4 linked regions of the Homo sapiens genome follow. The protein of the gene in region 1 purifies or fractionates together with the protein of each later gene. This does not show direct contact. Each region holds a gene or a part of one and is shown in the gene's direction. Other genes may lie near its edges.

What was found. The genes of interacting proteins can lie anywhere in the genome.
Region 2: the proteins of ABCA2 (region 1) and EDEM2 purify together in Homo sapiens (affinity purification with mass spectrometry; one large-scale study listed by BioGRID and IntAct). This does not show direct contact.
Region 3: the proteins of ABCA2 (region 1) and WASF1 fractionate together in Homo sapiens (co-fractionation; one large-scale study listed by BioGRID). This does not show direct contact.
Region 4: the proteins of ABCA2 (region 1) and ZNRF2 purify together in Homo sapiens (affinity purification with mass spectrometry; one large-scale study listed by BioGRID and IntAct). This does not show direct contact.

The regions. Positions count from the first base shown.
Region 1 is NC_000009.12:137,021,724-137,025,240, reverse strand, and holds part of ABCA2 (ATP-binding cassette sub-family A member 2), read left to right. Parts: intron 1-1,004; coding exon 1,005-1,098; intron 1,099-1,400; coding exon 1,401-1,403; intron 1,404-2,188; coding exon 2,189-2,300; intron 2,301-2,375; coding exon 2,376-2,539; intron 2,540-2,762; coding exon 2,763-2,890; intron 2,891-3,239; coding exon 3,240-3,350; intron 3,351-3,517. UniProt on the Homo sapiens protein: Probable lipid transporter that modulates cholesterol sequestration in the late endosome/lysosome by regulating the intracellular sphingolipid metabolism, in turn participates in cholesterol homeostasis.
Region 2 is NC_000020.11:35,126,832-35,130,348, reverse strand, and holds part of EDEM2 (ER degradation-enhancing alpha-mannosidase-like protein 2 isoform 1 precursor), read left to right. Parts: intron 1-3,517. UniProt on the Homo sapiens protein: Involved in the endoplasmic reticulum-associated degradation (ERAD) pathway that targets misfolded glycoproteins for degradation in an N-glycan-dependent manner.
Region 3 is NC_000006.12:110,110,166-110,113,682, reverse strand, and holds part of WASF1 (actin-binding protein WASF1), read left to right. Parts: intron 1-222; coding exon 223-357; intron 358-3,517.
Region 4 is NC_000007.14:30,326,085-30,329,601, forward strand, and holds part of ZNRF2 (E3 ubiquitin-protein ligase ZNRF2), read left to right. Parts: intron 1-3,517. UniProt on the Homo sapiens protein: E3 ubiquitin-protein ligase that plays a role in the establishment and maintenance of neuronal transmission and plasticity. Ubiquitinates the Na(+)/K(+) ATPase alpha-1 subunit/ATP1A1 and thereby influences its endocytosis and/or degradation.

The DNA.
Region 1 (3,517 bases):
GGTGAAGTGAGCAAAGCACCTCTTTCTCACTCCACGCAGGTCCCACTAGGGCTCACCTTGGTGCCCAGCCTGGGTTAGCAGGAGCCGACCTGGGGAAACTGAGCTCCAAGGCCCAAGACTGGCTGCCCCGGGTCAGGAGAGGGGACAGGGCAGAAAGAGGTGCCTTTGGGCCAGGTGTGGTGGCTCACGCCCAGGTGGGCGGATCACGAGGTCAGGAGATCGACACCATCCTGGCTAACACGGTGAAACCCCGTCTCTACTAAAAATACAAAAAATTAGCTGGGCATGGTGGCGGGCGCCTGTAGTCCCAGCTACTCGAGAGGCTGAGGCAAGAGAATGGTGTGAACTTGGGGGACGGAGCTTGCAGTGAGCTGAGATCGCACCACTGTGCTCCAGCCTGGGTGACAGAGTGAGACTCCGTCTCAAAAAAAAAAAAAAAAAAAGGTGCCTTTGCTTCAGGGACTGGGGCTGTTAGACCCCTTACCAGGTCTTCTCCGAGGCTCAGGGCCCTGGGCGCAGGCCAAGCCTCTCAACCAGGCCTCCTCATCTCCCCAGGCCCCGGTATTGGTGGGGAGGAAGTGGGAGGAAGGTGAACCCGGGGCAGTGTGGGAAGTGTAGGCGGGGCTAGTGGCTCAGATGGTCCCCAAGATTTTGCCCAGGTAGCCCTGGAGGTGGGGAGGGAGAAGATGAGCTGGGATATACATGGGTCAGAGTAGACCACAAGCTGGCCGATTTGTCCCTGTAGGCCCTGAGGCTCCTCAGAGGGCACGTAGGCCCAGTGTGGGCTGGGGACGGGAAACCTGATTTGCTGAGCCAGACAATCCTTACCCTCAGTGCCCTGGAAGGGGCTCAGACCTTCAGTGGTTCCGAAGGGCCTGTGCCCACCTTCCCTGGCCCCAGGGAGCACGTGGTCCTGTCTGGGCTGGGCCAGCCCTATGGGAGGCTGGGGAGGGCCTAGGCGAGCACAGGTCTGTCCTATCCCTCACTGGGCCCACCCTTTCCAGTGGGTCCTGGCCTTCGAGATCTTCATCCCCCTGGTGCTGTTCTTTATCCTGCTGGGGCTGCGACAGAAGAAGCCCACCATCTCCGTGAAGGAAGGTGAGTGCGGCAGGAGGCCCCAGGCACAGCCGGGGGAGCGCGGCACCTCGCACGCCTGCGCTGTGTGTGCACATCTGCACACGGGTGTCCTGCTCCCGGAGTCCCTGAGGTGCGGTGCCTGCTCCCCTGTGTGGTCCTGGGCCGTGCCTCCTGGCTGGGCTGTGGAGGTCGGGGCTGGCCTGTGGCCGCGAATGATGATGCCAACGCCTCTTCCTGGTGATGTGGGCACTCACTGGTCTCCTCTGTTCTGTTTTGATCCCCCTCCCTCCCCGCATGGTCTCTTGTCCTCGGCTGGCATGCAGTCTGTAAGTGAGCGGCCACCTCCTCCTGGCTGGCCTGGGCAGCAGCTGCGGGGGGCCCATGGGCCGTCCTGGCTTGAGCGCCCTCCCCGCTTGCATTAACAGCCCTCCCGGGCCCCCTGCCGGCCTCAGGAACAGCTGGCTCCAGATGGGGGGTGGCAGGCAGTGAAGTGGGAGGTGGTAGGGAGTGAAAGGCCCGGCCACCTAAAGGCACAGCTGGTGCCTGGGTCAAGCTGAGGCGGCATCTCTCTGCCTGGCCTTGCCTTCTAGGGCTGGGGTGCCTCGGCTTCTGGGCTGAGTCTGGGCTGAGGCTGGGCTGGCCTGGGCTGGGGCTGGAGCGGCCTGGCTACTCTCCCTTCATACTCCTTCAGGCTCTTGCACTCACTCTGCTAACCAGCTGGCCAGAGGTCAGAGGTCACTGCCCAGAGGGGGTCCTTTGTCCTCCCCTGGGCTCTGTAGGCAGTGCCACACCTGAAACGTTTTCGGGGGGAGAGTGCCAGGGCATGTGGGCCTGCACTGGCTGAAAGGAAAGGAATGCTCTGGGAGTTATGGCAGAAGGGGTGGTGAGTGGCTCTTTGACCTCTGACCTGCTGGAGTCATTCGCCCCAGAACGCTTGGCCTGTAGCCCAGCTGGGGCCAGGGCTCTGTGCCGCCTTCTCCCTAACGCTGCTTCTCCTTCCTGACTTTCTCTAAATTTCTCCTCTCGGCCTCTGTCTCCCTCCCCTTCTGGATTCCTCTCTCTCTCTCTCCCCTTTCACCCCCGACCCTGCCCTCTCCCGTGGGTCTGCCAGCCTTCTACACAGCGGCGCCCCTGACGTCTGCCGGCATCCTGCCTGTCATGCAATCGCTGTGCCCGGACGGCCAGCGAGACGAGTTCGGCTTCCTGCAGTACGCCAACTCCACGTGAGTGCCCACCCGCCCCTCGGAGCACCCACCCCTCCCCAGCCCATCCAGTGAGTGACATCCGCCATGGTGCAGGGTCACGCAGCTGCTTGAGCGCCTGGACCGCGTGGTGGAGGAAGGCAACCTGTTTGACCCAGCGCGGCCCAGCCTGGGCTCAGAGCTCGAGGCCCTACGCCAGCATCTGGAGGCCCTCAGTGCGGGCCCGGGCACCTCGGGGAGCCACCTGGACAGATCCACAGGTGTGCCCTGTGCAGGGAAGTTGGGGGGCAGGGCTGCGGGCAAAGCTCTGCTGTCACTGGGCTGAAGCCCACATCCACTCTGGGCCCCTCCACCTGCACTGAGTTCCCAGCCACGCACAGGCTGCAGTGGCAGAGCTGTGGTGTTGGGCTCGGCTCCGAGCGCATGTGGGGGCACCTTGCCAAGGTGCAGCGGCCTCTCAGCCTCGCCTTCCTGCCTGTCCAGTGTCTTCCTTCTCTCTGGACTCGGTGGCCAGAAACCCGCAGGAGCTCTGGCGTTTCCTGACGCAAAACTTGTCGCTGCCCAATAGCACGGCCCAAGCACTCTTGGCCGCCCGTGTGGACCCGCCCGAGGTAAGGCAGGGACAGCTCCCAGCCCTGGCCACTCCCTTCTGCCCCAGCCACGCCCCCTGGTTGCTGAGCCATCCTCAGGATGCTCAGCCTGAGTCACGCCCAGACCGTCTGAACCTTGCCCCCACCATCTGAGCCACGCCCCCACTCTCTGAGCCATGCCCCCACCATCTGAGCCACGCCCCCACACCTACATCGGAGCCACGCCCCCACCATCTGAGCCACGCCCCCACTCTCTGAGCCACGCCCCCACCATCTAAGCCACGCCCCCACACGTCCATCGGAGCCACGCCCCCACCATCTGAGCCACGCCCCCCACACCCCATCTGAGCCATTCCCCCACACCTCCTAGGTCTACCACCTGCTCTTTGGTCCCTCATCTGCCCTGGATTCACAGTCTGGCCTCCACAAGGGTCAGGAGCCCTGGAGCCGCCTAGGGGGCAATCCCCTGTTCCGGATGGAGGTGAGGGCATCCATGTGTGGGATGGGCCTGGAGTGCTGCCTGCCTCTGGGGGTGCTTCTGCTCCGTGGGTGAGGAAAGGGCCCCTTTGGTGACTTGGAGCTCCTCCTGGGAGAGGGGGAGGGTCCCAGGGGTCTATGGCAGGCATGAGGGGTAGAGGCATGTCGTGG
Region 2 (3,517 bases), on another chromosome or scaffold:
CCTTTAATCCCAGTGCTTTGGGAAGCTGAGGCGAGAGAATTGCTTGACCCCAGAAGTTCAAGATCAGCCTGGGCAACATGGTGAGACCTCGTCTCTACAAAAAATAAAAAAAAATTTGCTGGGCATGATGGTGCGTGCCTGTAGTCCCCACTACTTGGGAGGCCAAGGTGAAGGATTGCTTGACCCTGGGAGGTCAAGGGTGCAGTGAACCGTGATCATACCACTGCATTTCAGCCTGGGTGACAGAGTAAGACCCTGTCTCAAAAATAAAAATTTTTAAAAATTTAATGAATTAAGAATTCTCATAGATGTGTATGTATAGGAAAACAGTAGTCACGCATTGCTTAATGACAGGGATATAGTCTGAGAATTGCATCGTTAGGTGATTTCATCATTGTGCAAACATCATAGGGTGTACTTAAGCAAACCTAGATGGTATAGCCAACTACACACCTAGGCTATATGGTGTAGCCTATTGCTCCTAGGCTACAAACCTGTACAGCATGTTACTCTACTGAATACTATAGACAATTGTAATAGAATGGTAAGTATGTATATAAACATAGAAAAAGTACAGTACAAATACAGTATAAAAGGGCACATGAATGAAGTTCACAGGACAGGAAGTTGCTCTGGGTGAGTCAGTGAGTGGTGAGTGAATGTCAAGGTCTAGGACATTACACTATTGTAAACTTTATAAATACTGTACACTTAGGCTATACTAAATTTATTTAAATTTTTTTTTCTTTCTCCAGTAATAAATTTTTTTTTTTTTTTTGAGATAGAGTCTTGCTCTGTTGCCCAGGCTGGAGTGCAGTGGCATGATCTTGGTTTACTGCAACCTCTGCTTCCCCAGTTCAAGTGATTCTCCTGCCTCAGCCTCCTGAGTAGCTGGGATTACAGGCGCCCACCACCATGCCTGGCTGATTTTTTTTTTCTTTAAAGACAGAGTCTCACTCTGTTGCCCAGGCTGGAGTACAGTGGTGCAATATCGGCTCGCTGCAACCTCTGCCTCCCGGGTTCTAGCAATTCTCCTTCCTCAGCCTCCCGAGTAGCTGGGATTACAGGTGCACGCTGCCATGCCCAGCTAATTTTTTGTATTTTAGTAGAGATGGGGTTTCACTGTGTTGCCCGGGCTGGTCTTGAACTCCTGAGCTCAGGCAATCCACCCGCCTCGGCCTCCCAAAGTGCTAGGATTACAGGCGTGAGCCACCGTGCCTGGCCTAATTTTTGTATTTTTAGTAGAGATGGATGGGTTTTCACCATGTTGGCCAGGCTGGTCTCAAACTCCTGATCTCAGGTGATCTCCACCCACCTTGGCCTCCCAAAGTGCTGGGATTAGAGGCGTGAGCCACCATGCCTGGCCTCCAATAATAAATTAACGTTAGCTTACTGTAACTTTTTTACTTTATGAACTTTAAAATTTTAAAAAACTTTTTGACTCATTTGTAATAATGCTTAGCTTAAAACACATTGTACAGCTATACAGAAATATTTTATTTATATCCTTATTCTCTAAGTTTTTTTCTGTTTTTAGTTTTTTATTTTGTTTTCACCTTTTAGACTTTTTTGTTAAAAACTAAGCTACAAACACACATTAGCCTAGGCCTAGGGTCAGTATCATCAATATCACTGTCTTCCACTTCCCCATGTTATCCTGCTAGAAGGTCTTTGGGGGCAGTAACACTCACAGAACTGTTGTTATCTCAGATGATTGATAACAATGCCTTCTGGAATTCCTTGAAGGACCTGCCTGAAGCTGTTTCATTTTTTTTTTTTTTTTAGACAGAGTTTTGCTTATGTTGCCCAGGCTGGAGTGCAGTGGCACCATCTCGGCTCACTGCAACCTCCGCCTCCCAGGTTCAATTCTCCTGTGATTTTCCTGTCTTAGCCTCCTGAGCAGCTGGGATTATAGGCACCCACCACTACGCCCAGCTAATTTTTGTTTTTGTTTTTATTTTTTTTGGAGACAGAGTCTTGCTCTGTTGCCCAGGCTGGAGTGCAGTGGTGTGATCTCCGCTCACTACAAACTCCACCTCCCGGATTCACGCCATTCTCCTGCCTCAGCCTCCCGAGTAGCTGGGATTACAGGCGCCCGCCACCACACCCAGCTAATTTTTTTGTATTTTTAGTAGAGATGGGGTTTCACCGTGTTAGGCAGGATGGTCTAACACTGACCTCGTGATCCGCCCACCTCGCCCTCCCAAAGTGCTGGGATTACAGGTGTGAGCCACCACGCCCAGCCGACTTTTTTTATATAAGAGGAAGGAGTTATCTAATGATAATAATATAGTAAATACATAAACGCGTAAATGGTTGTTTATTAAATATCACGTACTATACATAATTGTATGTGTTATACTTTTATGACTGGCAGCACAGTAGGTGTGTTTACACCAGTATCACCACAAACAAGTAAGTAATGCATTGCATTATAAAATTACAACAGCTGTGATATCTTTAGGCTGTGGTGATTTTTCACCTCTATTATAATTTTATAGGACCACCATCTCTACAGTTCAGTGTTGACCAACATGTTGTTATATGGCACATGACTGTATATAGAGTTTATTTAGTACTATCCATGGTTTCAGACATCCACTGAGGGTCTTGGAACGTATTCTCCTCACATAAGGGGGGACTACTTTACTCATTTATTCAACAAATATTTATTGAATACCACGGATGTACCAAGCATTGTGCCAAGCTCTGAACATGGACTGTTTCATATAATCCTTACAACTCCTGTTTGAGATTATCTTATTTATTTGCATGTATATTTGGTACTTTGTTCATTCAGAAAATGTTTATTGCTCATTGTACTAGTGTGGGGGATTCTGCAGTAGACAAAACAAAGTCCCAGGCCTCATGGATTTACAATCTAGGGGAGAGATATGAGGGATAAATTCAAGTTCCTACTAGAATGTAAGTTCTCTGAAGGCTGGATTTTGTCTTGTTTACAAACTCATAGGAGCCTGGAACCTAGTAGGTGCTTAGCGAATGTTTGTGGTATAAATAAATGACTGAAAAATTCCACAGATACCTAACATTACTGTATTAGACCATTTTCACTGCTGATAAAGACGTACTCAAGACTGGGTAATTTATAAAGAAAAAGAGGTTTAATGGACTCACAGTTCCACATGGCTGGGGAGGCCTCACAATCGTGGCGGAAGGCGAAAGGCACATCTTACATGGTGCAGGCAAGAGAGAATGAGAGCCAAGTGAAAGGGGAAACCTCTTATAAAACCATCAGATCTTGTGAGACTTATTCACTACCATGAGAACAGTATGGGGGAAACGGCCCCCATGATTCAATTATCTCCCACCAGGTCCCTTCCACAACACGTGAGAAATATGGGAGCTACAATTCAAGGTGAGATTTAGGTGGGGACACAGCCAAACCACATCAATTATTTTCTGCTTTTTTCTTTTTGAGATGGAGTTTCACTCTTGTTGCCCAGGCTGGAGTGCAATGGTGCGATCTCAGCTCACAGCAACCTCCGCCTCCTGGGTT
Region 3 (3,517 bases), on another chromosome or scaffold:
TGGACTATTACAGTTAAACGATTTTGTTCAAGGGTCAACTGTAATTCCAAATAAATTCCAAATTCAACAGGTCACCAGTTGTAATATTACATTGTTCATTATTTATCTCTGATCACAAAGTATCTGAGGGCAAATATCATGCTAGATTTCTACTGCTTGCAAAGATAAAAACTCAGTGCTCTGGATGTTAAATTTTATGATATATGTGTCATTTTTGCTTAGGTAAATATGCTGAAGATATATTTGGAGAATTATTCAATGAAGCACATAGTTTTTCCTTCAGAGTCAACTCATTGCAAGAACGTGTGGACCGTTTATCTGTTAGTGTTACACAGCTTGATCCAAAGGAAGAAGAATGTAAGCTTATTAATATTGTATTTTCTTCTACGTATATATTTTAAGTTAGATGAGATGAATGATATACTTAACAGTATTAATCATGAATTTATTACAGATCATACCCATGTCCTTTGGTGTACATATTGTAATAAATCAGTGAATTATCTAAAAATGCCATCAGTATGATTCTCCGGGCTTTTCTTTTCTACTCTGTTTTAAATCTCTTCTTTTTGTACACTAAACAGCTCCTAATTTTTTTGCATAAAGAAGTCATTTTAACCAGACATTTTCCTCCATTCTCTTCATTATCTTTCTCTTTTCATTTCTCCCTTATAATTTATTTGTATACTTTTGTCTTAGAAATAAAAATTATTAGAAAATTACCTGAAATCTTTAGGTTTGATTCTACAAGAATGTAACTGGTTTTTTTTTTGTTTTTTTTTTTTTTTGAGACAGACACTCTGTCACTAGGCTGGAGTGCAGTGGCGCAATCTCGGCTCACTGCAACCTCCACCTCCCAGGTTCAAGCAATTCTCCTGCCTCAGCCTCCTGAGTAGCTGGGATTACAGGTGTCTGCCACCACGCCTGGCTAATTTTTTTATTTTTAGTAGAGATGGGGTTTCACCATGTTGGTCCGGCTGGTCTCGAACTCCTGACCTTGTGATCTGCCCACCTCGGCCTCCCAAAGTGTTGGGATTATAGGCATGAGCCACTACACCTGGCTATGTAACTGCTTTTAATATGCTTTTGTATGTGCATATTGCTAAAGTCTTATTAGTTATTTAACTGAATGCAACTTCCTACTTTAAATGAACATTTCAAAAACAAATTGCCAGTATGTAGGGTGTAAACATTCTATACCAAGATATTAAATCAGGAATAATCAGATAGGCTAAAATAATTGTAGAAACTTCGGTGGTAAAATCATGTTTTATGCCTTGATAGAATACATTGAATGCCGACGTTTCCCAAATGCATCTTTTTGTTTGTTTCACAAAAAGAAATGCAATACTAAGAACATAATTTGCACTTACCTACCACAGAGAATTGTTTAATGGAATTTCTTACACTCTCTTCAAAATATTTTTGTTGCATTAAATAGTATAAACACAAATTATATGATAGATCTAATTTTTAGTATAAATGCAAATTATATAATAGATCTAAACTTTAACAATAAAAATACTAAAGGATGTCAGTGGAAAGAACAAAAATATAATGTAATGATAGATGTCTTAGTGATGGAACCAGCTACTTTTGAAATAATCCAATGTGTAAATAAGGAGAGGCAAATACTTGGCATACTAGATTTGTACCACTTGTAAAATGTAAACTCAGAGCTCTGGATACAAGAAGAAAAGGAAATAATACTTAAAAAATAGCTTTATTAAGATATATTTCACAACCTACGTATACCTTGCAGTTCACCCATTTAAAGTTGAAGTGTACAATTCAGTGTTTTTTAGTATATTCAAGTTATGCAACCGTCACCACAATCAATTTTAGAGTATTTGTATCACTCCAGAAAGAAGCCCTGTACTCATTAGCAGTCACTCTGTTTCCCCTTCAGCTCAACCCCTAGCAATCACTGATCTTTCTGTCTGTATGGATTTGCCTCTATGGATTTGTCTGTATGGATCTGTCTGTATGGATATTTCATATGAATGAATAGTACAGTATGTGGTCTTTTGTGACTGGCTTCTTTTAGCATAATGTTTTCAAGGTTCATTCATATAGCATGTATTTATATCTCCCTGATGGCTAATGATGTTGAGTATGTTTTCATGTGCTTACAGGCCATTTGAATATCTCCTTTGGAGAAATGTCTATTTAATTCCTTAGCCCATTTATAATTTGTATTATTCGTGTTTTTATTTTTGACTTGTTGGAATTCTGTGTATATTCTGGATCTAAATCCTTTATCAAATATATGATTTGCAAATATTTTCTCCCCTTCTTTAGGTTGTCTTTCTTGGTGGTATCCTTTGAAACATGTGCATGTATCAATACATTAATTACACCTCATGGAATTCTTGAAATAAAATCATTGTTAGTGGTGAAAAATATTTTATGGTCATGCTTTCAAATACATAATTTATAGCCAAAATTTGTTTTTCAGATAACTCAACTGCTTATCACTTAAATATAAATTTATGCCATCAAATAATAGAGAAATACACAGGCAGTTCTCATATGTAACAGAAATAAAAATCAACATTTAGTTTCAAAATATTGTTACATTTTAACAAATGTCTTAGAGCCACCATTAAACTTGAAAGTGAAAATACAGATAACAGTAAATAAATTAAGATGTTTGTGTTAAAAAACAAATTTTAATATGTCAACAGCTATACTGTCAGAATTATACCTAGTTTCCTTTAAAATTTTGTGGAGCAGTGGGGGAAGAATTCAGAATCTAAAAGCTGAACTACTTAATTTGAAATTGTTTTGGAGAGGTTGTATTGAAGGAGTTTTCAGTTATTTAACCTAGGTTTTTTAATTCAGTGGGAATTAAAAAAAAAACATCATGTGTACAGTACTAAATAGCACAGTGTGGTATCAGTTTTTTTAACCGTTTTGTAGTAACTAAAAACTATCAATTTTGAAAATATTTTTTAAATGAATTTTAAACAAAGACTTGTACAATTATATTTAAGTCAATTATGTTTATAAGCATTATGCTAATTTATTGCTTTATAATTCTATTTTATTAATATCAGATGTTATTGTTGGCAAGTGGAAGGAGCTTCACCACAATAGTCTGTTAATAATAAGACAAACGATAAATGAGAGGAGTTGAAGATAGAAAAGTACATCATGCTTATTAGTTTACATGTTTCTTACATCCTTTACCAAGGAAGTTTGGCGAGATTAAACACTAGGTTTCATCTTAATTACATACTTATTGATTAATAAGTGGGGCAGGAGAGTGGCAAGAATTGATCCACTTTGACTGCAGAAAACACAACCCACTTCTGGCAGGAGCCTGAGAACAGCGTGTGGTATTGTGGCAAAAAGATTAGCCTCAAAGGTAGACAGATCTGACTTTTCTGTTCTGGCTCTGCTGTTTATTAACTGTTTAACCTCAGGTCAGTTATATACTATTTCCTAGCCTTAGCTTTCTTATATTTCACAATGGAGTAATAATTCCTGTCTTACTGAATTGTAAAGATTAAAT
Region 4 (3,517 bases), on another chromosome or scaffold:
TTTTGTGTAATATATCTAGAATACAGTCTTCTTGTGTATTGTGATATTTAACAATTTTTTTAACTTTTAAGTTGAGGGGTACATGTGCAGGTTTGTTATATAGGTAAACTTGTGTCATGGGGGTTTGTTCTACAGATATTTTGTTACTCAGGTATTAAGCCTAGTACTCATTAGTTATTTTTTCTGATCCTCTCCTTCCTCCTACTCTCCACCCTCTGGTAGGCTCCAATGTGTATTGTTCCCCTCTTTGTGTCCATGTGCTCTCATCATTTAGCTCCCACTTACAAGTGAGAACGTGCGGAATTTGCTTTTCTGTTCCTGTGTGAGTTTGCTGAGGATAATGGCCTCCAGCTCCATCCATGTTTCCACAGAGGACATGATCTTCTTTTTTATGGCTGTGTAGTATTCACACGGTATATATGGACCCACATTTTCTTTATCCAGTCTATCATTTGATGGGCATTTAGGTTGATTCCATGTCTTTGCTCTTGTGAACAGTGCTGCAGTGAACATATGCATGCATGTGTCTTATAACACAAGGATTTATATTCCTTTAGGTGTATACCCAGTAGTGGGATTGATGGGTCAAATGGTATTTCTGTTTTTAGGTCTTTGAGGAATTGCCATACTGTCTTCCACAATGGTTGAACTAATTTACACTCCCACCAACAGTGTGTTAAGTGTTCCTTTTTCTCTGCAGCCTCTCCAACATGTATTTTTTTTTGACTTTTTAATAATACGCATTCTGACGCTTGAAATGGTATCTCCTTGTGGTTTTGATTTGCATTTCTCTAATGATCAGTGATGTTGAGCTTTTTTTCATATGATTCTTGGCCACATTTATGTCTTCTTTTGAAAAGTGTTCATCTCCTTTGCACATTTTTTCATGGGGTTGTTTGCTTTTTTCTTGTAAATTTGTTTAAGTTCCTTATATATGCTGGATATTAAACCTTTGTCAGATGCTTCGTTTGCAAAAATTTTCTCCCATTCTGTAGGTTGTCTGTTCACTTTGTTGATAGTTTCCTTTGCTGTGCAGAAGCTCTTTAGTTTAATTAGATCCCATTTGTCAATTTTTGGTTTTGTTGCAATTGCTTTTGGTGCCTTTGTCATGAAATCTTTGCCTGTTCTTATGTCTATAATGGTATTGCATAAGTTGTCTTCCAGGGTTTTTATAGTTTTGGATTTTACATTTAAGTCTTTAATTCATCTGGACTTAATTTTTGTATGTGGTTTAAGGAGGTTGGCGTGGGGTAGGGGTCCAGTTTCAATCTTCTGCATATGGCTAGCTAGTTATCCCAGCACCATTTATTGAATAGGGAATCCTTTCCCCATTGCTTGTTTTTGGTCAGGTTTGGATATTTGACAGTTCTTAATTTCCTGATTTAACTATGCCTAAGTCATTAAACTGTTCTGCTAGATCACTTGTTTGGTGTCTTAAGAACTAATATATAACCTTCTGCTTGGGGATACTATAACAACCAAATATTTCGAATTTTAAATATTTAACAGTATTTCAATCTAGAAATTAATAAATTTCATGCAATAAGTAAATAAACTTGTAGGCATTCTTAAAGTTGCTGACTGAAAGCTTTAAAAAATAAAAATATATATATTTTTGTTTTTAGAGTCAGGATCTTGCTGTGTTGCCCGGGCTGGAGCTCAGTGGCTATCTATAGGCACAGTCATGGCACACGACAGCCTCAAACTCCTGGGCACAAGTGATCCTCCTACCTCAGCCTCCTAAGTAGCTAGGACTACAGGTGCATGCCACCATGCCTGGCTTTTATTTTTTATTTTGTAGAGATAAAAAATTCAAAGTATGTATTAATTGTATAAACATTCACAGCAAGAAGCAAATACAGCTTCTTAATAAAAACCGTGTATAGTTTTTGAGGTTTTAAAACTAGCTCTTGGACAGTGGCCAGTTATGAGTAAGTGAAGGAGAAAGGAGCTTTGCCTGGACTGATTTGGAGGGTTACAGAGAGGTGGCAGGTTAATAATGTACTTTCCTATCATAGGCAAGGGGAATTCTAATGCCACCTGGTTTTAAAGTCAGACCCCCCCCAAAATGTCTGTCACAGGTGATGAGTCCAAATGGAAATTGGCTCCTTTAATACCTCATAAGCAAACCATCTAGGATTATTATAAAGTAGAACAAGGTAAAGCCAGAGAATCTCTAAAACTGAATCTTTTTAGTCAACTGGATTCCTCACAATTTTATATTTGAATTCCTACATGTTGATTCCATAGAGAGATACATCAGATACATTGGGCCTCTGAATTGTGTTAGTGCTCAAACAAGAACATTTTTTTCAGCATACTGTTCATTTAACTTACACTTTTGCAGCCTTTTCCAAAGTAGCTAGATCTGAAATTTTGAAATTTATTTGTTAAGTGAATGTTAACTGTCTATAAACATTCATAGTTATAACACAAGAATAGTGGGGCTTGTTTTCTTCAGACTGGATATATTTATATAGATAAGCTCCTGAATTGGATGAGTTCCAGAAATTCAAATATAAGTTGATGATTTAGAGTTTCAGACTCTTTGTCACAGAGATGATATTTGAAATATTGGTTTTTCAGACTAGCTCACCAAAACCTTCTTATTTTTTTAAATGCACAATATATCTGAACACCCACATCCTGGTACCTGAAGAAGAAATTGGCTGACTAGGTAGAAACTCTCAGGGATTGGGCAGCTGGCTCGGCAGAGATCCCAATGGGACGCCCAAGGCTGTCAGGGCAGGGAAGGATTTTGAATGATGTGGGTGGTATTATCTATTGCAGATGGTATTTTGGCAGCTTGAAAAAATTAAGAATGCCACAGTGAGTATTCAACAACATAGATTACCTTCATGTGAAGGACTGCCTGTTTCATATACTTTTCCCTCTTTCATGTGCTTCATTGTTGAGTTTATGGACCTAATAATTCCTTGTATAGTCTATGAATCTAATACAAATTTTATGAGTATAGAGGCTCTCTTCATTTCCTTGCTCCTTCTAGGATATTTCAGACAAGCCAACAAATTAAATATTATTAGCAAATTCTTAGTTTTTTTAAAAAATTTTATTATGTGTACATAATAGTACATTTATAGGGGTCCATGTGATATTCAGATACAAATGTACAATGTGTAATGATCAAATCAGGATAATTGGGACATCCATCACTTCAAGCATTTATAATTTCTTTGTATTAGGTACATACCAGTTCTGCTTTTCTAGTTATTTTGAAATACACAATAAATTATTGTTAACTATAGTTGTCCTGTTGTGCTTCCAAGCACTAGGTCTTATTCCTTTTATCTGAAGGTATTTTTGTACCCATTAATCAAACCCTCTTTATATCCCCCTTCCCCAGTACCCTTCCCAGCCTCTGGTAACCATCATTCTTCTCTCTGTCTCCATGAGATCAGTTTTGTTTTGTTTTGTTTTTTAAGCTCCCACATAATGAGTGAAAATATGCTATAGTTGTCTTTCTGTGCCTGGCTTATTTCACTTAACATAATGTCCT